Linked DNA regions of Homo sapiens. The protein of the gene in region 1 purifies or fractionates together with the protein of each later gene. This does not show direct contact. Each region holds a gene or a part of one and is shown in the gene's direction. Other genes may lie near its edges. The genes, in order: PRKRA, CHLSN, ZNF777, TRIM56, STAU2, DDX50 and NOC3L.

Region 1 (4,076 bases):
CAAAGTGACAGCGCATTTCCATCCCTTTGTTTGTTCATTCATTCACTTAGCAAACATTTAGTGAGCTCATACTGTGTGCTAAGTGTTGTGTTGGGTACTGGGGTGCAGTGAATAAGCAGTCCCTGCCTCTAAGGAGTTTATAGACTACTGAAAGGAAGGAATTCTATAGGCTAGTCCTTACAGAGTGTGATGTGGGAACATAGAAGAAGGCATCCAACAAAAACAGGTTTGGAGACAGATTCCAGGAAGAAGTAATGTCTAAGCCAAGACCTGTAGAATGGGGGAAAAGAATTCCAGAGAGAAGAAAAAGCGTGTGCAAAGGCCAGGAGTGAAACATCGTATGCAGTCTAGGAGCCCTAAGTGATTTGTTGTGTGTAGAACATAGTGTTGGAGGGAGGGAGTCTCAATGAGGCCAGCAAAGTAAAGAGGGATTAAATCTTAAAGGGACCCCTATATAAGGAAAGTGAACTTTATCCCAAGGGTAGTACAAAGTCATTAAAGAATTTTAATCTGGGAAGGACAGGATCTAGTCTATACATTACAAGGAAATCACTTGGCTGCATTATGGTAAGTGAGTGAAATTAGGATCAAAGAGACCTGCGAGAGTGCTGTTACAGAAGACACGTGAGACATGACAGCTTGAACTAAGGTAGTGGCTGGGAAAATGGAGAGAGATGGGTAGATTTTAAAGTTATTTAGAAAACTGAGGTAAAGGGGCATGGTAATTGATTGGATGTGGGAAGCAAGGGAAAGGGAGGAAATTACTATTTTAAACTTGGCAATAGCAAGAGGGGAGCAGATAATGAACTAAATATATTGAATTTGAAGTGCTTATGGAATAGCTTATGGAATAGCTAAGTGAATATATCGAGTAGCTGAACAAATAAATTCAGAGCTTAAGAGATTGGCCTACACATGATATATAACTTCAGATTCTGATATTCACAGATAGGTGTGTCATGTGGTACATTATCTGAGAGTAGTGTATTAGGTGGGAAATAAAAAAGTACAACTGTAGCAACTTCTTCACTGAGCTTATGATAAAATAAGGGCTCATTCTTTAGAAAAAAATCAAAGACTATATACAAATGAGTAATATAATTTGATTTTACATTTTTAATAGAAAAATATAAAACACTGCATTTACTGCTTTTGGAATTTGAGTCAACAGTATCACCAAAATTACAAAGCACAGACAGATTTACAGGTGAAATTGGTTAAATCTTCAAAGAAGAGATCATTTTCAATGCTATTTAAACTCTTTTCAGGCAATGTATAGATAACATAAAGGAAACTTTTAAATTTATTCTCCAAAACCAACATAATACACCAAAACCTGACAATAGCAAGTTCAACAGAAAAAAAAAAATTACAGATCAATATGCCTTATGGTGAAACACCTTTGTAAAATGTTCAGTACAATATTAAAATAATGATATAGCATTGACAAGTAGGGTTTATTTAACTAAGACTATTTCAAGGTTAATAAGTTGGTTACTTTAATTAACCACATTAATGTGTCAAAGAGTAATATATAATCCTCTCAATGGATGCCAAAAAAATTTTGATAAAACTCAGCAATCATTACTGATAAAAACTTGGAAAAAAACCAAAATCATGGTTATATATTTATACATTATACTCATTCCCATTAATATCAGAAATAAGGACGCCCACCAACACCACTTTTATTTAACCTTGTTCTAGAAGTACCCACCAATTAAAAACAAATTAGACAAGAGAAAACAGTACGAAGTTGGAAATAAGAGGAGATAAAATGGTTACTAACTGCAAATGGTATGATTGTATCCCTTTAAAACCCTAAAGAAAAACTACTAGAAACAAGAGAATTCATCAAGGTAACTGATTATGAAATTAATATACAAAATCAATAACTTTTCCATATTGCCCAGAGTTATGTAGGTAACAACCAGAATAATTAAAAATAAAAAGCTAAAAATTATTGTATCTGGGAAGGGGACCTGAAGGTGGAGAAGGGGCAAGGCAGAGGTTGTTGCTTTTATACTTCTGTACTATTTGATTTTTTGCTGTATGTGTGTATCACTTTGACAAAACTTACGAAGCTTCATAACATTGGTCATTTTATAGAAAAATAGAAAATCCTATTCTGAGAAAATATACTAGAAAAAAGTCAGTAGTTTTCTTATTTACAAATAATAACTAGAATATAGAAGATCCCAATTTAAATTGTAGACAGGGATAGGCTATATGAAAATAAACTTAGAAAGAAATGCGTAGGACCACGTGAGGAAAAGTCTACTAAAGAATAGAGCAGAAAACATTGTAAATATATTTAAATGTAATGTGGTCTCACTCAAAACCTACCAGCGTTTGGCCAGGCACAGTGGCTCACGCCTGTAATCCCAGCACTTTGGGAGGCCGAGGTGGGCGGATCATGAGGTCAGGAGATAGAAACCATTCTGGCTAACGCGGTGAAACCCCGTCTCTACTAAAAATACAAAAAAAAAAATTAGCCGGGCCTGGTGGCGTGCGCCTGTAGTCCCCGCTACTCCGGAGGCTGAGTCAGGAGAATGGCATGAACCCGGGAGGCGGAGCTTGCAGTGAGCAGAGATCCACGCCACTGCACTCCAGCCTAGGCGACAGAGTGAGACCCCAACTCGAAAAAAAAAAAAACCTACCAGCGTTCATTTTGGACCTTGATACACGTTTATTGAAGTTTATCTGGAAAAAAACCCTCAAGAATAGCCAAGAAAACTGAAAAGGAAGAGTTGGGAGAGCAAGGGTGTGCTGCTTTACTAGAGAACAAAACATACTGTAAAACTGAACTTGTCAGACAAGTTACTGGGCCAGGAATAGTCAGAGGAGCGAATAGAGAATCCAGGCGTAGATGCTAATCCACATAGGACCATAGTATATAGCAACAGTGAGATTTCAGATCAGTGGGTGAGAGGATGGATTATTCAATAATGATGTAGAAACAGTTTACATCCACATTTGGGTGGGGGCTATATATATATATTTGTTGATGTGTATGACATCTATTTAGAATGCTTCCTTATTCCTTACACCAAAGTGAATTTCAGATGGATCAAAGATTTGAACATAAAAATTTGAAACAGTATAAATATTAGGAAACATGGAAGAGTTTTTCTTTTTAAAAATCTTAGCATGGGGAAAGCATTTTAACTTAAAACCTAGGTTAAAAGATTAATACATTTGACAACATAAAACCTACTGCACAGCAAAAAATCTGTAAATTAAGACAATAAAAAAGTGGGAAGAAATTATTTTCAACATAGAACTATAAAGGAACTGTTTTCAGTACTACCTTTAAAGCTCTTTTGTACACATCTGCTGCACACAGCAGCACATGCCTGTAGTCCCAGCTACTCGGGAGGCTAAGGTGGGAGGACTGCTAGAGCCCAAGAGTTTGAGAGTTAAGCCACACAGCAAGATCCTAACTCTTAAAAAAGAGAAAATTTAAAAAGCTCTTATGCATCAGTTAAAAAGACAACCCAGTAGAAGAAATGCAAACGATTAAGGGAAAAAAAGAAAAAATATTCAACTTTATTCATGCAAGATAAAATATTTTCACCTTTTAGATTGGCAAAAACTACAAAATTTGATAATAGCTGGTATTAGTGAGGGTATGAGAAAACAAGCCCCCTCCAAGACAGTTGGTAGGAGTATAAATTGGTTCAGAAATCAGTTTGGAAGTATTTATCAAAATTAAAAGTGTACATGTTCTTTGACTTAGCAGTTCCACTTCTAGAAATAATTCTACAGAGAAACTCATTCAAGTGCAAAAGAGTGTTTATTGCTAGTAAAAGCAAGAAACTAGAAACAACCTAAAGCTCACAGTTGGAGATCCGTAAGGTAAATACAGTGCATATATGTGCACTGATAAAAGAAAAATGAACAAGATGTAGAGGAGTAAGTTATCATTTGCTTTAAAAGATTGTGTGTGCTTGCATATGCATAGAACATTTATGGGAAGATACTGAAAAATGTTTAACAGTATGTCTAAGAAATAGAACAGAGGTCTTCAGGGAATGGGTGGTAAGGAAAAGAGACTGTACTCTTCATTATATATT
Region 2 (4,076 bases), on another chromosome or scaffold:
TACCACGCCCGATCCTGGCGGCCCCACCACCCTCCCGCGCTGCTCCCATTCCCCACGACCTGCCGCGGCCTGTGCCCTCCAGCCTGCCTGGACCTGCTGCCTCCCGCCCCCTCCAGCTGCACACCCTCCCGGGGCCCGCCTGTGTCATCCCAAGATAGCTGAGGTCGCTCACGTCGTGGTCACAGCCTTGGGGAATTGCCTGGTCCAGGACAGTGAGCGCGAGCATAGGGCGGCCGATGGCACGGAGTGGAGCCGGCACCCCCAAGGCAGCGAGCGCGAGCACGGGGCAGCCGATGGCGCAGAGTGGAGCCGGGCACCCCCAAGGCCCCTGGCTCTCCGGGCGCAGCACCCTCACTCCAGCTGCCCCTGCGTCTTCTGTTGAGGCCCAGCACAGAAAGCAGGAGTTTGGAAAAGTTAAAGGTGCACCGGCCAGTGTCAGGCACAGCCCAGGGCAGTGGGTGGCACTCCTGAGCTTCCCACCTCGTGGCCACAGTGGCTCCCTCGGGGACACGGGAATTGGGCTGTGACTCCTGCCAGGTCGGGAGCGCTGGTGGCCAGAAGCAAGAGTGGGTGTGAAGGAAGCTGTTTCCGCAGCATCCAGGCTGGTGCCTGACACAAGAAGCAGCCCTGCACCGGGCGCTCAGGAAGCCTGCGGGAAACAGCTGGGCCTGCGGGTCCCCGGCTTGGCCCCGATATGGGACGGCCTGGGTTCCCCTCGCCATCCACCCCAGGCCAGCGCCCACGTTGCTGTTGCCCACAGCCTTGGCCCCGTCCTCACCACTCTGGCCACCAACCTGGGACCCTACCACAGGGCCCTGCCCACCTGCTCAGGGCCTGTCCGGGTGCCCCACGCATGTGGGCTGACAGACCCTCGGCCACCGCGGCGGCCCCTGTGCAGCCCTAACAGTGTTATGGACTTTGGCCCGTGTGATCAGCCGTGGACTGCGTGGCCCATGGAGTGGGGGCCGAGGCTGGGCCTGTGCCAGGAGGGTTTTTACCTTTCAGGGCCAGTTGTTGTGCCTGCCCCGTTGGCGGCTGTGGGCGGCTGTGGGCCTAGGAGGTGAGCATGGAGCTGGTTGGAGCCGGTCAGTCACCAGGCTCCCCTGGGGGTGTCCACATCCCCACCATGAAAATCTTGCTCCCCAGAGCCCTGCGTGCCTGGCCTGGTGGGTCTCAGAGCTTCCTGCCTGTGTGTGTGGGCGGCCCAGGCCTTCCCACCGGGACTCTTCAGCCTCTCTGTGCCAGGCATCTGCCAGGGACGGTGCTCCTCGTCCCCCAGGCCCTGTCTCTTGCTGCGGACCCCTGGCAGGCTCTAGGGGTGTGGCTGTGGGTGTGTTGGCGTGTGTGTATGGTGTTTGTGGGTGTCTGTGGGCGTGTGTGGGTATCTGTGGGTGTCTGGGTGTGTGGGCATCTGTGGGTGTCTCTGGGTGTGTTTGGGTATCTGGGTGTTTGTGGGTGTCTGGGTGTGTATCTGGGTGTGGGCGTGTGTGGCTGTGGGTATGTTGGGATGGTGTGTGGATGTGTTTGGGTGTGTTTGGGTATCTGGGTGTTTGTGGGTGTCTGCAGGTGTCTGGGTGTGGGTGTGTCAGGGTGTCTGGGCGTGTGAAGGTGTGTCTGGGTGTGGGTGTGTCTGGGTGTCTGTGGGCGTGTTTGGGTGTGTGGGTGTTTCTGGGTGTCTGTGGGTGTTTGGGTATCTGTGGGTGTCTGGGTGTCTGTGGATTTGTTGGATGTGTGTGGGTGTCGGTGTGTGTGGTTGTATGTGGGTGTGTGGCATGTGGGGGTGTCTGGGCGTGTGGGTGTTGGTCTATGTGTGGGTATCTGGGTGTGGGTGTGTTGGGTATGGGTGGGTGGGTATGTGGGTGTCTGTGGGTGTGGGTATGTGTCCGTGTCTGTGGGTGTGGGTGGGTGAGTGTGGGTGTATGGTGGGTGTGGGTGGGTGTGGGTCGGTGTGGGTACATGGGTGAGGGTTGGGGGCTGTGTTTGGCTGTAGGGGTGAAGTCTGTGAATGTGTGTGTCTGTGTCGGGGGGGTGGGTTGCATATATATCTGTATGTAGGGGGGCTTGCCTCACTCTTCTTTGCTCTCCCTGGGGTGGGATGCGTAGGCGTGGGCTGTGCCCGGCCTCCCTTCCTGGAAGCTCCCGGTGGGCGCTGCCTGGTTGATTCCCACGCCCCTAGCTGTTTCCCTGGGCTCCTGGCCTTGCTCGGAGTCTACACTGATGTTCTGACTTTTCCAAAAAAGACGAAGCATGTGGACAGCGGCTGGGGTCACCTCATGGTCACCCCGTGGCCCGGCTGCCCCGGCTTTGACGCTTTGCACCGTCCTCTTCTTTTGTTAATGAGGGGAGGGTGGGCAAGACGGAGGGCCTGTGCTTTCCTGGCAAGATGTGGCTGGGGACACATTGTCACAGCGGGCCCTCTCCCTCCCTTGGGGGTCTTGGCCCCCTCCCTGTCCCCAGCCTGCAGCCCAGGGGGAGCCAGGCAGCCAGTGACCTGCCAGAAAGCAGCAGGCCCCAGGCACCGTCCTCGGGATTTGGGTCGGGTCTGGGGCCAGCACCTGGCCTGTGTGATAACAGACACCAGCACACCTTCAGCCCTCCCTGGGGGCCGGCCCGGATCTTCCCACACTGTGTGGGGTGGGGCAGGACCTCACAGAGCCTCGGGAGCCGGGAGTCTGTGGGAGGTGGACCACGGGGGTGGGGAAGGGGCCTCTGGGCAGTTAATCCTGGCACCTGGCGCCTGCCCGCAGGACTGGCCATCCTCATGTGACCTGTCTGTCTCTTCGTCGTAGCACAGGCTTAGCAGGATGGTGTCGGCTGGGGCCAGACCCAGTGCTTGGGGACAGAGCTTTTGGCCACTACTGAGGTGAGGGTGGGCTCGGGAAGCCCCAGGCAGCGCACCCGTCTCTGGATACCCTCCATCCCCGAAGCCTAATGTGTTCCTTGACTTTCAGGGCGAAGCTGTGCTCAGGCCCGGGCTGGACGCAGAGCCAGAGCTGTCCCCAGAGGAGCAGAGGGTCCTGGAAAGGAAGCTGAAAAAGGAACGGAAGAAAGAGGAGAGGCAGCGTCTGCGGGAGGCAGGCCTTGTGGCCCAGCACCCGCCTGCCAGGCGCTCGGGGGCCGAACTGGCCCTGGACTACCTCTGCAGGTGAGCGGCCCTGCCCCACGCGGTTCTGTCCCGGACGTGCGTCTCAACCCCTGCCTGAGGGGGTCGAAGCCTTCACTCGCACACACTGTGTGGAAGGTTCTAGAGCAGTGAGGTATGAGCGTTCATGCCAGGCCTGTGCTGCCGCCGCTGCCCTTTCTGTCTGAATGGCCCAGAGCCTTCAGGAACTTTCAGGGGCGGCAGCAGAGCCGCTGCCCGTGCAGGGGTTGCCTGGAACTGTGCTTTTAGAAATGGGTCTGATGGTGAACCTTGCCCCAGGTGTACGTCACCACAGGAAGAATCCACGGGCCTGGGTGCTGCTTGGACGTGGGGGTGAGGAGGAGGGAACTCGTGGTGGCCTTCAGCCCTCACTCACAGTGACAGGAGGCGCCACTGCCACCCAAGAGCGGGAAGACGGGGATTGTGGGGTGCTGGGCACAGGGTGCCATCTCCCTGGCTGCCTGCGGCGTGGCTGGGTGGATGGTGCCTGCGGCGTGGCTGGGTGGACGGTGCAGGATTGCAGGGGTCAGAGGCTTTGGCGTGGGCTCCACAGCCTTGCGGGCTGTGGCCACCTCCCCGGCGCTTACCAGCACAGGCTGCTGCCCGTTCCTGTCCGTCTCCCTGAGTGCTGACTGCACCTAGAATAAGGGGTGTCACGGCGTCCACGTGGCTGGCTTCCTCAGAGACAAGAACTGGGTCCCTGTGATGAAGTCACCCTGAGGGGCAGGGTGTCCTGTGGGGGCACTGGCCCTGCCTGGGAGGACAGGCTCCAGCCGCACCTCTGTGGGAGGCCCTCGGAGAGATGACCTCCTCGGAGAGATGACCCCCAGTGTGGCTGTGCAGCTAGCGGAATGAGCAGCGGGGCCTGCGTGGATGTGCACGCTGCGTGCACGTGCACGTGTACGTGTGTGCATGTGTGTACGTGTGTGCATGT
Region 3 (4,872 bases), on another chromosome or scaffold:
GAGAGAGAGAGAGAGAGAGAGGTATCACTGAACACCTGGAACACACAGAAAATAACTAGTAAGATGGTAGATTTAAATGCAATCGTATTAGTAATCACATTAAATGTTTGGTGATATGATTAAGATCCAGAATAGATTTTTAATGAAATACCTATAAGCCAATAAGAAAAAGATCTCACAACAGAAACATTGGCAAATGATATGAAGAGGAAATTCACAGAGGAAGAAACCAAATGTCAGTAAACATGAAAAGATGTCCAACTTCATTAATCAGGGAAATACAAATACAAATTAAAATAATGAGCTACCATTTCACAGTCATCATGTCGGCAAACGTTCTGAGTCCATTATCAGTAAGTATGAGCCAGGATGGGGAAAGAGAAAATCACACGATAGTGGGTGTGTAAGTAGGCACCATCCCTTCAGTGAGCAGTTCGGGAAGCCGGGGAAAGATGAAGGTGCTCTTGCCATCCAGAGTCCCATGTCTAGGCGTCTCTAGAGACGCACTTTAGCAGTGCACAATGAGACATGCATGCAGATGTCGCTGGCAGCAGGTTTGTTCTCATTCCTCTAGGGGGAATGGAACGTAAACTGTAGTTTATGTATTCAATGAAATACTATATTGTGGGTAAAATGAATGAACCAGATATTCTTGTTTAAACATGTCTGTATCTCAAAAACAAAATGACCCATGGAAAAAAGCAAGTTGCAACAGGATAGGGACTGGATAATATCATTCACATAAAATGTAAAAATACCAAAACCAGTAGTGTGCATTGTTTACGAATGCACACATGTTAGTTAATGCATAAAGACCTGGGTGAGAACTCTAGCCTCCGGGAAGGGAGGGGACAGGATGCATAGCTCTGGCCTTACCTCTATCTGTAACTTTCCTTTTTTTTGTTTTTTGAGACGGAGTCTTGATCTGTCCCCTAGGCTGGAGTGCAGTGGGGCGATCTCGGCTCACTGCAACCTCTGCCTCCCGGGTTCAAGAGATTCTCCTGCCTCAGCCTCCCAAGTAGCTGGGACTACAGGGCCGCGCCACCACGTCCAGCTAATTTTGGTATTTTTAGTAGAGACAGGGTTTCATCACGTTAGCCAGGTTGGTCTCGATCTCTTGACCTCGTGATCTGCCCACCTCAGCCTCCCAAAGTGCTGGGATTACAGGCATGAGCCACCACGTCTGGCCATAACTTTCCATTATCTGAGCTGCCAGCATACTGAGTCCTGTTGCCTTCCAAGACCAGCTCCACTCCTGGGGTTCCATTAGGTAAACACAATGTCCTCTGCTCCCCCCCGCCGTCTTCCCTCACTTAAGTTAGTTCCAGTTGGGCTTCATCGCTAGTAACCAGGACGCCTGCCTATAGTTTCTTCTTTTTTTTTCCTTTTCAATTCATCCCCAGTTCTCGCCACCTCGTAGGTATTCAATTAATACATGTTTAAGTGGACCTGTCCAGGAAGGGGAGTTCTCAACTCTAAGCTCCTGCATTTCTTTTGGGACTTCTCATGGTTACAAAGAGCATTCATTCATACTGTGACTGAGGGTAAACAAGTCGCTGCCCACTCGGCCTCAGTTTCCTCCTAAATGACCCGTCTGGCCACTTCCAGCCCCAGCAGGGTCTGATTCTAGGAATTCGGTCCTTTCATGTCGAAAACAACACTCGGGCATTTCACAAAAGCACCCAACCCCCTGGCTCCCCTTGGAAGCACAGCCCGCGTCCCTGGAACCCGGGCTGCACTGAGCTGGTCACATGAACTCCGGGCTTTCTCTGGTGTGACGGGTTTCTTAGATCCCTTTGTGAGCGCAGGTTTTGAAAGGGAACGACCCCGGGTTCTGGGTGTGAGAGGCGCAGGGGATCGGCGGGAGGAAGGCTGTCGGAGCCAATCAAGCCGCCTCCAGACCCCAGCACGTCGCCTGGGCTGCGCGCTCCGACTGCGCCTCCGCCCGCGCGCCTCCCGGCCTCGCCCGAGGGTGCCTGGGCAGGCGAGGACCCCAGGTGAGAGGCCGGAGGGTCCTGGAGGGTGGGAGGCCCCGGCGGTTCGGCCCGGGCTCCACGACGGGCTGGCCCGGGCTCAGGGCGTGTCCGTCGCCGCCGGGCGGCTCGCTCGACACTGTTCGCTCCTACCGGCTGTAGATGGAGCTGTCTGGGTTCCGGCAGCCTCCGACGAGCCTCGGAGTGTTTCTCTTTAAACGGCCTGAGAGGGACATGCCTCCCAGGATGCAGTTTGTAGCAACATGGCAGCTGCTGTGCAGCTCCCCTGCTAAAGAGGCGCCGGGACGGCAGCGCAGCTCGCAGCCGGGGCCGGGGCCGGAGCTGGGGTCCCAGCCGCGGCCGCAGAGGGGCGGCGCGCGGGCCGGGGGCCGCCGTTGAGGGCCGGGGCCCAGCTCGCCGCCGGGACGCAGCCGGCCGGGCCGCCCGCACAGCCGCGCGCCCAGCTCCGACGCCGCCGCTCGGGCTCCGCGACCCCGCGCCCGCTCGCCCCGCGCGCCCCGAGCAGGCCGGGGCCCGACGGCCGCGCGCGAGCCCCGGCGGGGAAGACAGGGCTGGGCCGGCGCCGCCTGCGGAGAGCGCCGGGCGGCCGGGCCTGCGTGGGGCCGCGCGCAGTAGCGGCGGCGGCAGTAGCGGCGGCGACTCCGGGGGCCCGGGCCGGACAGCGCAGGGCCATGGCCGAGGCGGCCCCGGCTCCTGTGAGGGCGGCCCGCGCGCGCACGGACGCGCGGCCTCGGGGCCCCGGGGACGGCCTGCGTGTCCCGGGCTCGGCGGCCCGGCCTGGGATCTCGGTAAGGGGCAGAAACGCTACGACGTTGGCGCGGGGGGTGGGGGCGCCCTGGAGGGGGCCCGCGCGTCTTGACCCGGGCGGTGGGGGAGGGCTACGGGCCTCGCCGCCGTCCGTGCGAGGGAGGCTGCTCTCACGCCCGGCCCGGCACACACGCGGCCCCGAGGTGGGGCGCCCGGAGGCGCGCTCGCTCCCTGCGGGGCCCGCGCTGCGTCCGTCGGGGTAGCCGCCGGCACGTTTTCCGCAGAGCTCGGCCCCGCGGAGCCTTCCCCGGCCCGGGCGCGGCGCTGACGCGGCTCTCCCATTTCGCAGAACGGAGACACTGAGGCACAGACACCTGGCGGCGACCCGCCCTGCCGGCCCCAAGGTCACGTAGCAAGGCATCCGTGGCACGGTGCGGCAGCCCCAGAAAGGCCTGCCCAGAGGGCTGCGGGCCTGGACGGGGAGGGGGTGGCTCTGGCGGCGGCCGCCCCTGGGTGAGGGGCTGGGCCGCCCTGGCAGCGGACGCGGCCCGTCGGGGGCGGCGGGGGAGGCCGGGCAGCGCCCAGCTGGGCATCTCCGCGGTGGGAGCAGGTGACCCTCTGAGCTCCAGCCTCTGCCTCCGGCCTCTGCGTCTGGAAGGTCGTAGGCTAAACTTTGAGTGCCCTGACAGATGGTGTCTGGGGAGTAAGCTTCTCAGGGGTTGGGGGCTGATGTTCCTCTTCAGGAAGACACTCTTAAAAAATCATCCCTCAGATCCTCCCGCAGACCTGCTCTTTGAGACGCCCTGGCCGTGCTAGTGAGAGGATTACTGCATGGGAGTCAGTGCCTTTGAGCCTCAGTTTCCTATTGTGTACACAGGAAGGAGGCAGGATATATAGCTTTCTAAAAAGCATCCCAATTCTTTAATCAAAAAAAAACTCATGAGAAAATAAAATCAAACGAAGATGTTTACATGCCTTACTCTGGGCTCAGGCCTTCGGGGCCCTTGAATGGTATATAATGCTGGGTGAACCATACTGGGTCATTCAAAAAAATGCCATGACTTTCTTAATAAGTCAGATACTGTGGTTATGGATGCTTCTGCTAATGTGGCATGAATCCTGGAGAATCCATCCACTCCTGATCCGTCGGGGAAGGAGGGACCGTTAAATCCTACAAATATGGTTCAGAAGAATTCTCCCTCCAACCCCCTACCAGGAATTTGAGAATTTGAGCTTATTCGTTTTAGGTATATTTACAGCTCCCTCCCTCTCTTTGGTCATTTCTTTCTGCTTAGGGTAAGATAAGCGGCAGGTTTACCGGGATGGATTAAATTATAGCAAAGGGCTTTTATTTGGGAGGCGAGGGAGGGAACACCCTCCTGTGGCCCCTCTACAGTCCTCCAAATCCGGAAATGGAGAGAGACAGTCTAATAATAGCAAAGAAATAGTATTTTCCTTTGAGCTCTGATTTGTCTAGCTGGTAAAGATGCCTTGGTCTGCTGGCTCTGTTTACTATACTGGAGGGTTTTGTTTTGTTTTGTTTTGTTTTGTTTTGTTTTGTTTTGTTTCATTGTTTCAGTTAAACCTCTGCATTACTCAGAGAGACTAACTTGCTCCCCAGGGATTTTTTCCTCTTCTTCTTTCTAGTGCTAGGCAGATACCCTAATCTCCCTCTAAGGCAAGGGCTGTAATGTGCCTATTGTGTTGCGTTAGGCAGTCACTTTCCCTGAGAGCCAGGCGCCTAGCCTCCAGGGCCCCCAGCGCTTCCTTCACAGGGAATGAAGAGTTCAGAGGTGGCTTAGCTGTTGATGAGCCTGCAGGTTTAGGGGTCTGTGAGCTCCTTGAAGATGTCTGCAAAATTCTGTGTATGTGCCCTTTTGTCTTTTTTGAGGACAAGAACCCAAAACTTTCATTAGGTTTTCAAAGAGGTCCCTGACCCCAACTTAAATGATAATATCTCTAAAGGCAAGGCCTTCCTCCCCACCTCTCCCAACCCTATCAAACCTGCCACAGGTCTTTGTGTATAAATAATATCCAGGCCTCGGGATTTTAGAGGTAAAAAGGATTCAGAGCACACACCTGCCTGGCCAGCTGCCTCAGTTGACAGTTAAGGCCTCAAGGTAGCCTGCAG
Region 4 (4,076 bases), on another chromosome or scaffold:
ATGGTCACGGTCTCCCTCTGATGCCGAGCCGAAGCTGGACTGTACTGCTGCCATCTCGGCTCACTGCAACCTCCCTGCCTGATTCTCCTGCCTCAGCCTGCCGAGTGCCTGCGATTGCAGGCGCGCGCCGCCACGCCTGACTGGTTTTCGTATTTTTTTGGTGGAGACGGGGTTTCACTGTGTTGGCCGGGCTGGTCTCCAGCTCCTAACCGCGAGTGATCCGCCAGCCTCGGCCTCCGGAGGTGCCGGGATTGCAGACGGAGTCTCGTTCACTCGGTGCTCAATGTTGCCCAGGCTGGAGTGCAGTGTCGTGATCTCGGCTAGCTACAACCTCCACCTCCCAGCCGCCCGCCTTGGCCTCCCAAAGTGCCGAGATTACAGCCTCTGCCCGGCCGCCACCCCCTCTGGGAAGTGCGGAGTGTCTCTGCCTGGCCGCCCATTGTCTGGGATGTGAGGAGCCCCTCTGCCCGGCTGCCCAGTCTGGGAAGTGAGGAGCGCCTCTTCCTGGCCGCCATCCCATCTAGGAAGTGAGGAGTGTCTCTGCCCGGCTGCCCATCATCTGAGATGTGGGGAGCACCTCAGCCCCGCCGCCCCGTCTGGGATGTGAGGAGCGCCTCTGCCCGGCCGCGACCCAGTCTGGGAGGTGAGGAGCGTCTCTGCCCAGCCGCCCCGTCTGAGAAGTGAGGAGCCCCTCCGCCTGGCAGCCGCCCCGTCTGAGAAGTGAGGAGCCCCTCCGCCCGGCAGCCGCCCCGTCCGGGAGGGAGGTGGGGGGTCAGCCCCCTCCCGGCCAGCCGCGCCGTCCGGGAGGGAGGTGGGGGGTCAGCCCCCGCCCGGCCAGCCGCGCCTTCCGGGAGGGAGGTGGGGGATCAGTCCCCGCCCGGCCAGCCGCCCCGCCCGGGAGCGAGGTGGGGGGCGCCTCCGCCCGGCCGCTGTCCCGTCCGGGAGGTGGGGGGTCGCCTCTGCCCGGCCGCCCCGTCTGGGAGGTGAGGAGCCCCTCTGCCCGGCCACCACCCCGTCTGGGAGGTGTACCCAACAGCTCATTGAGAACGGGCCATGATGACGATGGCGGTTTTGTGGAATAGAAAAGGGGGAAAGGTGGGGAAAAGATAGAGAAATCAGATTGTTGCCGTGTCTGTGTAGAAAGAAGTAGACATGGGAGACTTCATTTTGTTCTGTACTAAGAAAAATTCTTCTGCCTTGGGATGCTGTTAATCTAAGACCTTACCCCCAACCCCGTGCTCTCTGAAATATGTGCTGTGTCCACTCAGGGTTAAATGGATTAAGGGCGGTGCAAGATGTGCTTTGTTAAACAGATGCTTGAAGGCAGCATGCTCCTTAAGAGTCATCACCACTCCCTAATCTCAAGTACCCAGGGACACAAACACTGCGGAAGGCCGCAGGGTCGTCTGCCTAGGAAAACCAGAGACCTTTGTTCACTTGTTTATCTGCTGACCTTCCCTCCACTATTGTCCTATGACCCTGCCAAATCCCCCTCTGCGAGAAACACCCAAGAATGATCAATAAAAAATTAAAAAAAAAAAAAAAAAAAGAAAACCAAGAAGATGGGAAAACCATGCAGAATTGATTTGACGAGGAAAGCCTTGGTCTCTAATACATGCAATGACTAGAACAGTATTTGGTCAAAGAACCACATAAGCTCTGTACCCTGGAGGAAATGTATGCAGGCAAGGACTAGTAAAATAAAAAATAATAATAATTAAAAAAAAAAAAAAGAAAGGCTGGACGCGGTGGCTCACACCTGTAATCCCAGCACTTTGGGAGGCTGAGGTGGGTGGATCACCTGAGGTCAGGAGTTTGAGACCAGCCTGGCCACTACGGTGAAACCCCATCTCTACTAAAAATACAAAAATTACCCGGGTGTGGTGGCGCATGCCTGTAATCCCAGCTACTGGGGAGTCTGAGGCAGGAGACTCGCTTGAACCTGGGAGGCAGAGGGTGCAGCGAGCCGAGTTCACCCCATTGCACTCCAGCCTGGGTGTCACAGTGAGACTCTGTCTCAAAAAAATAATAAATAAATAATTAAATCCACTTGCAGTGGTCAAAAATAAATGTTAAATAAATGGGTGAGAAATCTTGCGGAGAAATAGACTCCTGGCACTATAAAAATGATCCTGGAGAATAATTTGGCTAGACTTTGCAAGAATGACAAAAATGATTATAAGAATCAGTTGTCTCACTTTGGGGAATACATTCTGGGAAAATAATGTAAGAGAAAAAATATTTGCATACAGACATTTGAGGCTGCTCTGTATATTACAGGCAAGAACTGGAAACTGTTCGGCTGCAGGGTGACAGCTAACTAGATTGTGGTTTATTAGGGGAATGAGCCTTTCTTTGTGTATGACAACTATGAAAACTATTGAGAAGAAATAGTTACGTGATACAGTCATAATCCTCAAAAACGGAGAATCAGGAATTATGATCAAATAGTGATAGTAACAAGGAAAACATCTGTCTAAATAATTACTGAGTAGAAATAGGTTCGGAATTTGTAAATAGTCATTAATTTGGGAGATTGGGGTTTTTTTTGTTTTGTTTTTTGTTTGTTTTTCATTATTTTGTGCTATTATTCATACGTGTACATTTCTACTTCAGTTTTTATTATCCATTACATAACATACATGCTTGATTATTTGCTTCAAGGAAATACACCTTTATAAGTAATACTCAATAACTACTGGGTTTGAGAATGAAGGTGTCAGAACGAATGAGATTGTCCTATGAAAGAAGAGGCAGGAGCCAGGGAGGAGGATCCCACCCGGCCGGGGCTCAGCCAGGAGGCAGGGCCATTGGGGCAGGGTGGCAGTCCAAGGAACCGCTCTGGGAAGGTTTGCAAAGGTCGGGGTCCCCCCTGCCAGGTGATCGAATTATCGTGGAGTGTCTGGAAGGCGGGGGAAGTTTTGTTGAGTTCACCAAATAACTCAGACCAACTGGAAACCAAGTGGAGTTTCTACAGGACCAACTAGAATAGGGATCAGCTACATGGGGGCGGGGGGAGGGGGGCAGGGAACGGTGTCTGTCTTCATTGCAGCTCTGTCTGCAGAGCCAGCACTGTGATACCTCATAGTAGGTGCTCAGTGAATGTCTGTGAAGTGAATTACTATCTAGACAAGGATGAGACTGGTATGACTCTCCAAAGCTTTCCCACCTCCAAAACCTCGGCTTGTGGGGAATCTCCAGTAGGGGGCACTGTGGACACGGTTCGCATCTGCCTCCCAAGGCTGGGCTCCGCGTCAAAAAAAAAAAAAAAAAATGAGACTGAGCCAGGTGCAGTGGTCACTCCTGTTATCTCAGCACTTTGCGTGGCCAAGGCGGGAGGATGTCTTGAGGCCAGGAGTTCAAGACTAGGCTGGGCAACATAGCAAGACCCCATCTCTACAAAAAAATTTTTAAATTAGCCAGAGGTGGTGGCATGCACCCGTAGTCCCAGCTGCTCGGGAGGCTGAGGCAGAAGATTGCTCGAGCCCAGGAGTTCAAGGCTGCAGTGAGCTCTGATTGTGCCACTGCACTCCAGCCTGAGTGACAGAGCAAAACCTGGTTTCCTAAGGGGGGGATAAAAGAGGGAGAGATGAGATCGGGGTGTCCCGCTTCTGTGCATGTGGAGGGGGTAACTGGGAACCGTGTACTGTAGGGGATCGCACACCTTGGGGTGGAAACAGCAGCTCTCCGGAGTTGCATGGGAGCCATGGGCAGTGGTCCTGGCTGGTGAAATGATTCTAGCCACGTGGCCCACCCAGGGGGCAAAACAATAGAAACCTTCAGAAATGAAACGTCACCTGGCTGCAAGAAGATAGTCCCACAGGCGCCCTAGAGATGGGGATGCCAAGTGGCTTCTCGGGAAGCTGTAAGAATCCACAGGGCATTGTAAGATGGAGGGAAATATTAAGTTTTCTTCGTAAAGAGGTGAGGGGGGCGAGAGCAGCAAAGGACACTGGAAAATGAGAAGCATGGATGGGAAGTGTTGCATTGAGCATAATTTGGAGGTAAAATCTCCAACACCGTAACTGAGTGGCCTGGGGACCTGATAGAAAGCCCTGCTCAGGACTAAGGCAGAG
Region 5 (4,076 bases), on another chromosome or scaffold:
TCTTCGCTCTGTCTTCCACAAACAAAAATTCTGCCTTCAGACATTTGGTGTTAGTATTTCACACTCAGTTCTCCCTTTTTTTACATAAGGATTGAGTTTCTTTTTATGATGATTTTACCTTTATAGCAATTTTGAATTTTGCATTCTATTGCTAGTATTGATTCAGGTACACCATTAAGATACAACATTCTAGAAGTCTATTACCTTAGGAGTTAATTAAACATGATATTTGAAGAATAATGAAATGCTTTATAGTTGTTTGAGGCATAACAATGTGTATTTGTTTTACTGGATCATGTTTTGAACTGACTAGGGAGGGTAGCACCTGCCTCAGATAGTACCAACAATTCTGTTTCACTGGGTAGTCTAAAACTAGCTTATAGTTTAACTTAACTTGTTGTGTATGTGAATTTAGGGATGGAAACTTTTTTTCCCCTATTTATTCTTTGTTTCCTTCTGGGAAAAAACCCCACAAAAATCAGCACTCCTTTATGGATACATTGGAGCTTTTGAAAGAATTGTAAACTCTAGGAAGGGGAAATATCTGTGTCTTGATTTCTTAGTTGCCTTGAAAATCATGTACTGAACTGTAACCGCTAACTTGACTGGATGAACTAGTTTGCTTGTGTGTAGAGAGTGTATTGCTTCCTCAGATTTCACTGTTTTCATCTCCTTTTCCATCTTAGTCTTTATTCCTTAAGACCAAAAACTGTAATATCCTTTAGAAATGCTCTAGAAGATCTGTATTGTGTAGAATGATCATGTATTTATAAATATTTTACAAGTTTAGATTATAAAATGAAAAAGAAGGTCATGTGTTTTGGGGGGTATTTTGCATGTTCGGATTTTTTTTTCACTTCACCGAACCCTTCTGATTCTTTCAAACTATTGCCAGGTAGTTGTTAGTGTTTCTAATTGGACTCTTAATATGAACTTCAAGAAGCTGTTACCAGTTATCGGCTCTGTCATCTGAAATTTTAACCACTTAATTTAAAGTTACAATTTTAGAATTTGTTTTTGTTGTTTTACCTTAAGAAACACAATAAATCACTGTTTAAAAAAGATCTCAATTTATATAAAGTACTGGAAAAAAGCTAAGTAATTTTTAGTTCTATCTATAATCTCCGTAGGATGAATTAGAAATAAATTGTGATGAAAAGAAATTAACTGCTTATTTATGAATCTAATCATTTAGAAATGTCTGAGAGTAACACTGCATTCTTATAGAAACAAAGCACAAATTGCATTCAAGCTCTGAATTGATTTTTTGCTTGGAGCTGTTGTTACAGTAGCTGTAATTTTGCTACCAGAATGTCTTAATTTTTTAAATTTGTTTTTATTTCTAAGCTCTTGGCAATGACAATAATTATAATTTTAACATATCTTCACTGTAGTCAACATGTAGAGTCTGCTTCCCTCATTATTGCATTGCTAAGGCCTTTTTAAAAAGCTTATGCTTACATAATATACTCTTTTTTATGGACACGTTATATGTTTCCAAATCTGTGTATTGTGATTTTTACATACTAATGAATATAAACAGGTGATTTTAAAATATTACTGTGCTTCTTTGGTTGAATGAGCTGGTATTGATGTAAAATACTCTGTCATTGATGGACCACTACCTGCAGCTAAGCAGTGAGCAGAATCTCCGGGAAATGACTTAGTCTGGCCACATGCATAGCCCATCTTCATAATGTCGCAGCAGAAGGTTCTTTGTGGTTAAAAGTTTTAAAGCCTATTTCTTTATAGGTAACCCTCTCAGGTATATTTACCTGGTAGAAAAACATGTAGATTGTTTCTATTACTTAAATGTTTTAATTGGACTGTAGTTTAGAAATTACAGGACCAGCTTGTTACAGATTATACACTATTCTGTTACTTTTATTTCTGAAACTTAAAAACAATAAATTCTTTTTCTGTGTTTCTAGGTTAGAACTTTTTTATTTTATTGCACACTGAACAGATACTGTTGCTTATTGAATATTGTGTAAACCCTTCTTTGGCTTTCCTTGCCCATTGCAATTTGATTTAAGCCTACTAGAGCCATTGTATGTGACAGCTATATTGTATTACAAAGTAAAAATATATGAGTGTATTGAAAACAAAGTTGTTTTAACTTTTAATTTTGTTTCATCACCCAGTCTTTAATTTGAATTTATAAATTACAAAAAGCTACTTTGATCAACTGAATGTAGGTATCCAAGCTCAAATTCTTTTAAACCTACAAAATAGGTAAAATTATTATACAATTAAAGTTATTAATAAAACTGACTTAAGAGAGCAGAATGTGACCGAACACTTACACATTCTCAGCAGTTCTGTTATTCTTGTTTGGTCTCACCTAAAGTTTTTATCGTATTTTAGAATCGAACCTTTTGGATCTCTGTCAGAAATGAATGTTTATTTCTTTCAAGTTTTATCAAGTATTAATACGTTTTATTTATATTCTTTTAAATGTTTTATTCAGTAGTTCTGTGAACTTCAGACTTTGTTGTTCAGCCTAATCGTATGCTTCTGTAACTTCTACACATTTTATAAGAACTCATTCAAAGTTGTAGTCCTACCATAGTGTTTCAGGGTTCCTTGTTGTGTACACTTTTACTATAATGGCAAAATGTTTCAAAATCATTCAGCTTTTTAAAGAAACTTATTATGCAAAAGACACTCTTGAAATGCTGTGCATTTGAGCTGAAGTGAAAGAATTTGTTTCATGTTGTACTTTGCATTATTTTAAGTTTTCACATCTTTAATATGCTTTTCTATGCTAATTATATTAGAAATCTATAAATATAAGTGGTTTCTTTGTTTAAACTAGTCATTAAAAATTAGGTTGAAAATGAAAGTGGATTATTTTAGCAAATCGTCCCTTCTAGATGGATTTCATTTCAGTTTGCTATTCTGTGCCTCTCCTGTGAGCATCATCCACTGTAACAGTGTTGTTTGTGAAACCTTCCGAGTATAGTGTAACAAACTAGGTTTTTTCCCTCACATAAATAATATAAAGAAACACTTAGTTGGTGTTTTAGTTAAACTATAATTAGTTTATTGTCCAAAATCAGGGAGTGTTTTATGGAGGGGCATTTCATTATTGATCATAATCATGCCATTTCCAGCAAGATGAGATTGTCCACTTAAATTAAAATCTTCCTTTTCAAATATAATTCACGCTGAATACATTTCAACTCATATGCCTCCTTTTGTGGAGTTTAATATGATGATAGCAGGTTTTTATAGCCACAGGCTTCTTTTAAGTATTTATTTTTTAACAATATGACTTAGTATAGGTTATATTGGGATGGGGCTGGTGGAAGTGGGGGGGTGGTGGCTGGTCTCCCTGAGAATCTGAGAATCAACCTTTCACCTATTTATTCTTATCTCTCCTATACCTCATGTTTTCCAATCCATATAGTTATCATCAAGGTGGCTATTTGCAGCAGCTTTTTTTTTTTTTTTAGAATAAGGTATTCATTTTTGTTAGGAGATCAATACAAGTACAATTTTGTAAATTCCTCTTAGGAGAATATGGAGAAAGAAATAATGCATGTACATACACACCCACATTTAGGAATATAGTTGTCTCTTGGTATCTGCAGGAAGGATTGGTTCTAGGACCCCCAAAGATACCAAAGTTCATGGACGCTCAAGTCCCTTATATAAAATGTTGTAGTATTTACATATAACCTACACACATCCTCCCTTATACTTTAAATCATGTCTAGATGCCTTATAATACCTAATATAATGTAAATGCTATATAAATAATGGTTATACCATATTGCTTTTTTGTGGTTTTTTTTCAATTCTTTTTTAATATTTTTGATATTTGGATGCATAGCCCATGGATATGGAGGGCCCAACTGTGTGTTTTCCCTTATTTTTAATTTGTCATTGAAACATAACTTACTGTGTTGCCTCTGAGACCAAATGTTCATGTAGGCTATTAAACAAATGTATAAAACCATAATAAATTACTTAGACTACAATGAGCAAAACACATTTGTGGGTTTGGTCAGCAGATACTGCTCTGATTTGCCATTAAAATCTTAAAAATTCTTAAAAAGCTCTCTTGAATT
Region 6 (3,500 bases), on another chromosome or scaffold:
AGTGTGAGACCAGCCTGGCCAATATGGTGAAACTCTGTCTCTACTAAAAATAGAAAAATTAGCCGGCCTGGTGGCGGGCCCCTGTAGTCCCAGCTATTTGGGAGGCTGAGGCATGAGAATCACTTGAACCCAGGAGGTGGAGGTTGCAGTAAGCTGAGATTGCGCCACCGTACTCCAGCCTGGGTGACAGAGGGAGACCCTGTCTCAAAAAAAAAAAAAAAAACCACAGAAGTCAGAAGAAGAATCCATAAAGGAAAAGGTTTATAATTTTGACTCCATGAAAGTTAAACCAATGGTATGTTTAAAAAAAGAATTAGGGCCGGGCGTGGTGGCTTACGCCTGTAATCCCAGCATTTTGGGAGGCTGAGGCAGGCGGATAATGAGGTCAGGAGATCGAGACCATCCTGGCTAACACGGTGAAACTCCATTTTTACTAAAAATACAAAAAATTAGCCGGTCATGGTGGCGGGCGCCTGTAGTTCCAGCTACTCGGGAGGCTGAGGCAGGAGAATGGCGTGAATCCGGGAGGTGAAGCTTGCAGTGAGCCAAGATCGCGCCACTGCACTCCAGCTTGGGTGACAGAGCGAGACTCTGTCTCAAAAAAAAATAAAAGAAAAAAAAGGCTGGGTGCGGTGGCTCACGCCTGTATTCTGAACACTTTGGGAGGCTGAGGCGGGCAGATCACGAGGTCAGGAGATCGAGACCATCCTGGCCAACATGGCGATACCTCGTCTCTATTAAAAATACAAAAACTAGCTGGGTGTGGTGACCCGCACCTGTAATCCCAGCTACTTAGGAGGCTAAGGCAGGAGAATTGCTTGAACCCGGGAGGCGGAGGTTGCAGTGAGCCAAGATCGTGCCACTGCACTCCAGTCTGGAGACAGAGTGAGACAACATCTCAAAAAAAAAAAAAAGAAAAAAGAACTAAAGGTAATATTTACCGTATTTATGACAGGCAACTAGGTAACATGTCATCTTTCTATTTAATAGATGCATATATATGTGTATGTAGGAAAGACTAGGTGACTAAGTGAATAGTAGTATCTGCAGAATGTAATGCAGTGGTTAAAAACAATCAGTGATAAAAACCAAATTATACAATGATGTATACAAAAATTACACTATTTTAAAAAATAAATAGTGCTAAATGGATTCCTTAGGCATTTATGTAAATATACAAACACAGGTTGAAAGAATAAACATCAGATAATGATTACTTCTGGGAAGGGGCATGCTGGATGGTAAAAAGAAGCTTTGTGGGCCGGGCGTGGTAGCTCATGCCTGTAATCCCAGCACTCTGGGAGGCCGAGGCGGGTGAATCACGAGGTCAGGAGTTCGAGACCAGCCTGGCCAACATAATGAAACCCTTTCTCTACTAAAAATACAAAAATTGGCTGGGCATAGTTGCGCACGCCTGTAGTCCCAACTACTCGGCAGGCTGAGGCAGGAGAATTGCTTGAACCCAGGAGGTGATAGTTGCGGTGAGCTGAGATTGCGCCACTGCACTCCAGCCTGGACAACAGATTGAGACTCTGTCTCAAAAAAAAAAAAAAAAGAATAAGAAAAAAGAAGCTTTTTTATTTTGTAATGGTTGAAAGTTTTGCAGTAAGAATGTAAAATGTATAGTAAAAAACAGTTGATAAGAACATTTTCAAACATATAAAATTGAATAGTAAATTGAATAGAAAGATTGAATAGTATAAAGAACATGATATACCCATTACCTATTACCAGTCTTTAACAATGATCTTTTCTTCACCCCTGCATTTGAAACAATCCCAGTCATCATTTTATCTTCAAGTAATTGTATGTATTTCCAAAATGATAACTAAGGGCTCTTTAAAACCACAGTCATTATCAGTAGAAGAAAAACAGTAATTTTTTTTGAGATGGAATTTCACTCTTGTTGCCTAGTCTGCAGTGCAATGGTGTGATCTCAGCACGCTGCAACCTCCACCTCCCTGGTTCAAGTGATTCCTCCTGCCTCAGCCTCCTGAGTAGCTGGGATTACAGGCGCCCACCACCACACCTGGCTAATTTTTTGTATTTTTAGTAGAGACTGGGTTTTGCCATGTTGGCCAGGCTGGTTTCGAAATCATGACCTCAAGTGATCCGCCTGCCTTGGTCTCTCGAAGTGCTGGGGTTACAGGCGTGAGCCACTGCGCCTGGCATAGTAATTCTTTAATATCATTAAATACCTAGTGTGCACATTGCCCTTGCTGTCTTTTTTAAATAGTTTGTTTGAATCTGGATCCAAATACAATTCTTGACGTTGCTACTGATTGATATGCGTCTTAAACATTTTATAATCTATAGTTCCTTTTTTTTTCTTTGCAATTTTCTGTTGAAAAAACTCATTTGTTGGCCAGGCGCAGTGGCTCACACCTATAATCCCAGCACTTTGGGAGGACGAGGATGGTAGATCACCTGAGGTCAGGAGTTCGAGACCAGCCTGACCAACATAGTGAAACCCTGTCTCTACTAAAAATACAAAAATTAGCAAGGCATGGTGGCACGTGCCTGTAGTCCCAGCTACTTGGGAGGCTGAGAAAGAAGAATCGCTTGAACCAGGAGGCGGAGGTTGCAGTGAGCTGAGATCGTGCCACTGAACTCTAGCCTGGGCAACAGTGTGAGACTCCGTCTCAAAAAACAACAAAAAAACTCATTTGCCTTATGAGTTTCCCACAGTCTGTTTTGCTGATTTGCATCCCTGTGGTTTTTATTTTTCCTTATTTTTTTACTGTTAACACCACTCAAAGATGTGGTGGGTTTTCTTGTTTGTTCGTGTTGTGTTTTTGTTTTTGTTTTGAGAGTCTTGCTCTGTCGCCCCGGCTGCAGTGCAGTGTGGCATGATCTCAGCTCATTGCAGCCTCCACCTTCCAGGTTCAAGAGATTCTCCTGTCTTAGCCACCTGAGTGGCTGGGACTACAGGCATGCGCCACCATGTCCGGCTAATTTTTGTGTTTTTAGTAGAGATGTAGTTTTGCCATGTTGGCCAGGCTAGTCTGGAAGTCCTCACCTCACGTGATCCACCTGCCTCCGGCTCCCAAAGTGCTGGGATTACAGGTGTGAGCCACTGTACCTGGCCTCCCCGTAAGTATTTTAACATACATATCTTTTTTTTTTTGAGATGGAATTTCACTCTTGTCGCCCAGGCTGGAGTGCAGTGGCGCAGTCTCAGCTCACTGCAACCTCTGCCTCCGGGGTTCAAGCGATTCTCCTGCCTCAGCCTCCTGAGTAGCTGGGATTACAGGCGTCTGCCACCATGCCCAGCTAATTTTTGTATTTTTAGTAGAGATGGCGTTTCACCACGTTGGCCAGGCTGGTTCAAACTCCTGACCTCAGGTGATCCACCCGTCTCGGCCTCCCAAAGTGGTGGGATTACAGGCATGAGCCACTGCGCCCTGCCTATATATATCTTTAACTAGAGTGCCATATTTACAGTTTTTTAAATTGAGGTAAAATTCACATAACTAAAACTAACCATTTTAAAGTATACA
Region 7 (4,076 bases), on another chromosome or scaffold:
AGGAGAATGGCGTGAACTCAGGAGGCAGAGCTTGCAGTGAGCTGAGATTGCGCCATTGCACTCCAGCCTGGGCAATAGAGCGAGACTCTGTCTCAAAAAAAATAAATAAATGAATAAAAAAAGAAAATTATACACCATGTGATTTTTTTCCCCCTACAAAATTCTTCTGAAGTTATTTATTGGTAAAATAATGTCAATTTATTAAACACTGTCTATCTGAAGAAAATTATCTGAACATAAGTTTGGTGTAGTGGTTCACAACAGGAAGCAAATTTGTCCCCCAGGGAACATTAGGCAATGTCGGCATACATTTTTGATTGTGATGACTGTGGTGGCGATAGAGTCTTAACTACTGGCATCTAGTGGAGAAAGTCCATGGAGGCTTTTAAACATCCTAGGACAGTCCCCCTACAACAAAGAATTCTGTTACCCAAAACGTCAGTAGTGCTAAGGTTGAGAAACACTGGTTAAGTATGACATTTTATTTTTCAGATATCTGAAATGTGTTGTGAAGCTGTGAAGAAACTCTTTAAGCAAGATAAATTAGGCCAAGCTTCTCTTGGTGTAATTAAAGTGATTTCTGGTTTTGTGAAGGGCAGAAATTACGAAGTTAGGCCAGAGGTGAGCCTTTTTTTTTTTACTTTGCATTTTGTTTTTAAATTACAAAGTTGATTTTCAGTTGTTATGAGGAATTTATTCCTTATAAGTGTATGAAGTAAAAAGTATTCAAGCTCCTTAAGTGTTTAACATGTCAACTCCTGAAATGTTTGATACTATTAACAGTTCGGTATTTATCCTTCTAGATGTTTTTCTTTGCAGATATAGTCATATATACTTGCTTATATTTTAAAATAAAAAATGGGCTTATACTTTGAAAACTGTTCTGGAACAGTTTTCATTTTCTATATTGTGAACTTACATATAGGGTTATCCCATTCTTTCTAATGCCTACCAGAGTATTCCATTGTGTGCCCTAATTGTTGAACAGCTGAGTTTTTTCTAGATTTTTGCTGCCACAGTCAGTGTTGAGAACATTTTGGCCATATTATTTTTTCATATTGTGTGAATATTCTGTGAATTAAATTTATAAAATGTAGATGCTGGATCCAACAGTAATCACATTTACAAACTCAAATTGTTGTTCAAAAACATTTAATCACTGTGTTCCTGCTAGGAATATGAGTGTCAGTTCCCTCCTACCTGCTCAGAATGTTACTATTTAATCTTTGTTAGTCAGGTAGGTGAAAAGTTTATATATATATAAACTTTTTTTACCTGCTTATTATTTGTCAGTTTTTCTCTTAAAGTAATTGTCTTAATGACTTGTGATGAGTTTTTAGTACATATTCATTTTAATAAATAACTGCTATGTGCCAGGCACTTTTTTTAGGTCCTGGGAATAAAATAGTAACAAAAGAAACGAAACTATCTGTTTGTGGAGCTTGCATTACATAAAGAATATTAACTCTTTGTTACATAGGTTGCAGATTGTTCTCTTTTTTACTTTGCCTTTTAATTCTGTGTTCAGCCTTATATATGAAGCTATATTTTTTGTTATGCACATAGTCTCCTCAATCCCAATTTACGGAGTCTCTCCGAGATTTTTAATTTTAATTTTTATATTTAAATATTTAAACCATTTGACATCTTTGTATGTGTGGTATGAGTACAGATTTAATATCTGTGTTTAATATATGTAATGAATATATATTTTATATAGTTTAATATATATTGAATATTTATATTATGTATATATTTGATATAATCTGACAGCCAGTTATTTCATCACCATTTTTTTTCTGCTGATATAAAATGCTGCTTAATTATTGTGTTATATCTATAGTATATTTGGGTATGTGGTACAATAATAATCAGAAAGGGTATAATTGATAAAAGACATGACTATTCTTTTTTCTCCACAATATTCTTATTTATTTCAGTATATTACTCCAGGCAGTTTAGAATCCATTTTTCACTTCCTTCCCTCAAAATAGTCCACACAGAGAATCTGATTAGAATCGATTCAATGTATTGATTAGTTTGGATGAATTAAAATATTTACAGAATTGATTTTTTTCTATTCAAGAATATCATATCTTGCCATTTATTTAAGACTTCTTTTATGTTCTTAAGTAAAATTTTATAGTTTTCTTCACTGAGGTCTTAGATATTTTAATTTGTCTTTAGTAATACAGTTTTGGGTGTTAAGCTGTTCTACCATTTTATTTCTGGATTTCACAGTTTTCCTTTGGCATCAGATTCCTTTTTATTTTCTTAAATCTGATTTCAGTTGAATTGCTAAAATTATAAACATTAAATGAAAGTAACAGAGCATATTTAGCATCTTTACTTAGAATTGTAGAGCAATCAGATAAGGCTTGAACATGAAACTCAGCCATAGGAAAACCCTTTAACTTTCGTGATGCTAGAGTAAAAACTACATCATTTGATTTGGAGTTATTTTTCGTTGGTAGGTGATATTTTGAGCACATACAGTACCTACAAAATATTCAGAGTTGGTCTTTCTGATACCTAGAATGACTTCAGGTTCACTCTTTATGCCTTTAGTTATTCCTTGTTTCATTCTGTGCTTTTAGCCGTGTAATCCCAAATACTCAGCTTTCTTCCAAATGTGCATATTGGAACATCAAAATAATACAAACCTGTAGTTCTCAAGGTTTTTTCCAGGAATGCTGCTGTGCCTGCGGGAGGTCGGTAGGGTGATTTCATCCAGAGAAAGTGTAGCATTTTAAACCCCTTTTGTTCTTAGTGTTTGAGTATGCGAAGTTTGCTGTATCACACAAAACACCAGTTTCCAAATTAGTTTCTGAATTTTTGAATGGCATAAAGCAATAATTTTTATTTTTGTCCCCAGACCAGCATCAGCTGGGAATTAGAATGCAAATTCTGGGGCTCAACTCAGACCTACTAAATCAGAAACTCTGGGGATAGGGCCCAGCAATTTGTGTATCTTCTCCCATACTGGTCCAAACCTTTTCCTGGCCTGTTTTCTCTTTGTCATCCTGTTGGCATGTGTTCTCTCTTCCTTATACTCATTAAACTGCAAAGAAAGTTTTGTATATTTAGTTAGTATTTGCTAGCGTCCGTTTTGTATGTTTGCTCCCGTCCTTCCATAGACACAAGTTATTAATATAGCATACAGATAAAAGAAGTTGGTGTAAAATGTTATAAAAGATGTTTGAAGGTTTTTTCATGAACGAGGGAAATAACACTGTTAAATGCTTTTCTATGTAAAGTTTTTGAGGGCAATATAAATATTAAGCTGTATATTTGTGTTTTTTTTCCAATATTAGATGTTAAAAACATTTTTATGCCTAAGAATCAAGGAAGTAGAAGTGAAAAAAGATACAGAAGACATTAATAAACCAAAAAAATTTATGACTTTCAAAGAAAAGAGAAAATCTCTATCAAGAATGCAGAGAAAGGTTTGACTTATTTCCCCTTTTGTTTCATTTAAATTTTCTGTTTATTTGATCTTAGATTAAACTTATAGGCACATGTAAAAATCATAGTTAAATCATAAACATAAAAGTTTTGAAATACATCATTTAGAGAATTTTATCTTTTCCTGTTACTGCAAAGAAATGTTTTCTTAAATCAGTTTTAACTGATAATGATTGGCAAGGAGAGCAATAGATGAAAAGATATTTTTGCCATGCTGGCTTTTATCCTTTGGCTTTTTAGATCAATTTAGAGTTATGATACACAGATTCCTTCCTTAACAGAAAAGATGCATTCACGTGAAGTTGGCAGCAAAGTGAGTTTCTGTTAATTGAATCTTGTTTCTTTGTTGGTTTGTATTTTAAACTTGGGTTGAAATTTCAGCCGCTTGTTTATTTACTGAAACTTTGGAAACTTTATTTATTTATTTATTTATTTTTTGATAAACGGGGCTAATAATAGTACCTACCTTGCAGGGTAATCGTGCAGGTTAAATGAGATGATGCATATAAAACACTTGGCAGGCTTTATAAACCTTAGTTTTAGTACCACCACCATCATCACTATTATTGTTATCATCACATCTCAGAACATTTCTAAACAGTTTATTAGAG

Evidence for each region.
Region 2: the proteins of PRKRA (region 1) and CHLSN purify together in Homo sapiens (affinity purification with mass spectrometry; one large-scale study listed by BioGRID and IntAct). This does not show direct contact.
Region 3: the proteins of PRKRA (region 1) and ZNF777 purify together in Homo sapiens (affinity purification with mass spectrometry; one large-scale study listed by BioGRID and IntAct). This does not show direct contact.
Region 4: the proteins of PRKRA (region 1) and TRIM56 purify together in Homo sapiens (affinity purification with mass spectrometry; one large-scale study listed by BioGRID and IntAct). This does not show direct contact.
Region 5: the proteins of PRKRA (region 1) and STAU2 purify together in Homo sapiens (affinity purification with mass spectrometry; 2 studies listed by BioGRID and IntAct, with this or other methods). This does not show direct contact.
Region 6: the proteins of PRKRA (region 1) and DDX50 purify together in Homo sapiens (affinity purification with mass spectrometry; 2 studies listed by BioGRID and IntAct, with this or other methods). This does not show direct contact.
Region 7: the proteins of PRKRA (region 1) and NOC3L purify together in Homo sapiens (affinity purification with mass spectrometry; 2 studies listed by BioGRID and IntAct, with this or other methods). This does not show direct contact.

Annotation. Positions count from the first base shown.
Region 1 is NC_000002.12:178,437,261-178,441,336, reverse strand, and holds part of PRKRA (interferon-inducible double-stranded RNA-dependent protein kinase activator A), read left to right. Parts: intron 1-1,093; exon of another isoform or gene 1,094-2,470; intron 2,471-4,076. UniProt on the Homo sapiens protein: Activates EIF2AK2/PKR in the absence of double-stranded RNA (dsRNA), leading to phosphorylation of EIF2S1/EFI2-alpha and inhibition of translation and induction of apoptosis.
Region 2 is NC_000007.14:1,009,019-1,013,094, reverse strand, and holds part of CHLSN (protein cholesin), read left to right. Parts: intron 1-2,794; exon of another isoform or gene 2,795-2,863; intron 2,864-2,951; coding exon 2,952-3,145; intron 3,146-4,076. UniProt on the Homo sapiens protein: Hormone secreted from the intestine in response to cholesterol, where it acts to inhibit cholesterol synthesis in the liver and VLDL secretion,leading to a reduction in circulating cholesterol levels. Acts through binding to its receptor, GPR146.
Region 3 is NC_000007.14:149,457,940-149,462,811, reverse strand, and holds the start of ZNF777 (zinc finger protein 777), read left to right. Parts: upstream 1-1,749; 5' UTR 1,750-1,997; intron 1,998-2,223; exon of another isoform or gene 2,224-2,665; coding exon of another isoform or gene 2,666-2,782; intron 2,783-4,872. UniProt on the Homo sapiens protein: May be involved in transcriptional repression. Inhibits cell proliferation through CDKN1A/p21 induction by down-regulation of NIBAN1/FAM129A at low cell density.
Region 4 is NC_000007.14:101,091,811-101,095,886, forward strand, and holds part of TRIM56 (E3 ubiquitin-protein ligase TRIM56), read left to right. Parts: 3' UTR 1-4,076.
Region 5 is NC_000008.11:73,547,634-73,551,709, reverse strand, and holds part of STAU2 (double-stranded RNA-binding protein Staufen homolog 2), read left to right. Parts: exon of another isoform or gene 1-2,109; intron 2,110-4,076. UniProt on the Homo sapiens protein: RNA-binding protein required for the microtubule-dependent transport of neuronal RNA from the cell body to the dendrite.
Region 6 is NC_000010.11:68,914,815-68,918,314, forward strand, and holds part of DDX50 (ATP-dependent RNA helicase DDX50), read left to right. Parts: intron 1-3,500. UniProt on the Homo sapiens protein: ATP-dependent RNA helicase that may play a role in various aspects of RNA metabolism including pre-mRNA splicing or ribosomal RNA production.
Region 7 is NC_000010.11:94,345,795-94,349,870, reverse strand, and holds part of NOC3L (nucleolar complex protein 3 homolog), read left to right. Parts: intron 1-492; coding exon 493-621; intron 622-3,314; coding exon 3,315-3,446; intron 3,447-4,076. UniProt on the Homo sapiens protein: May be required for adipogenesis.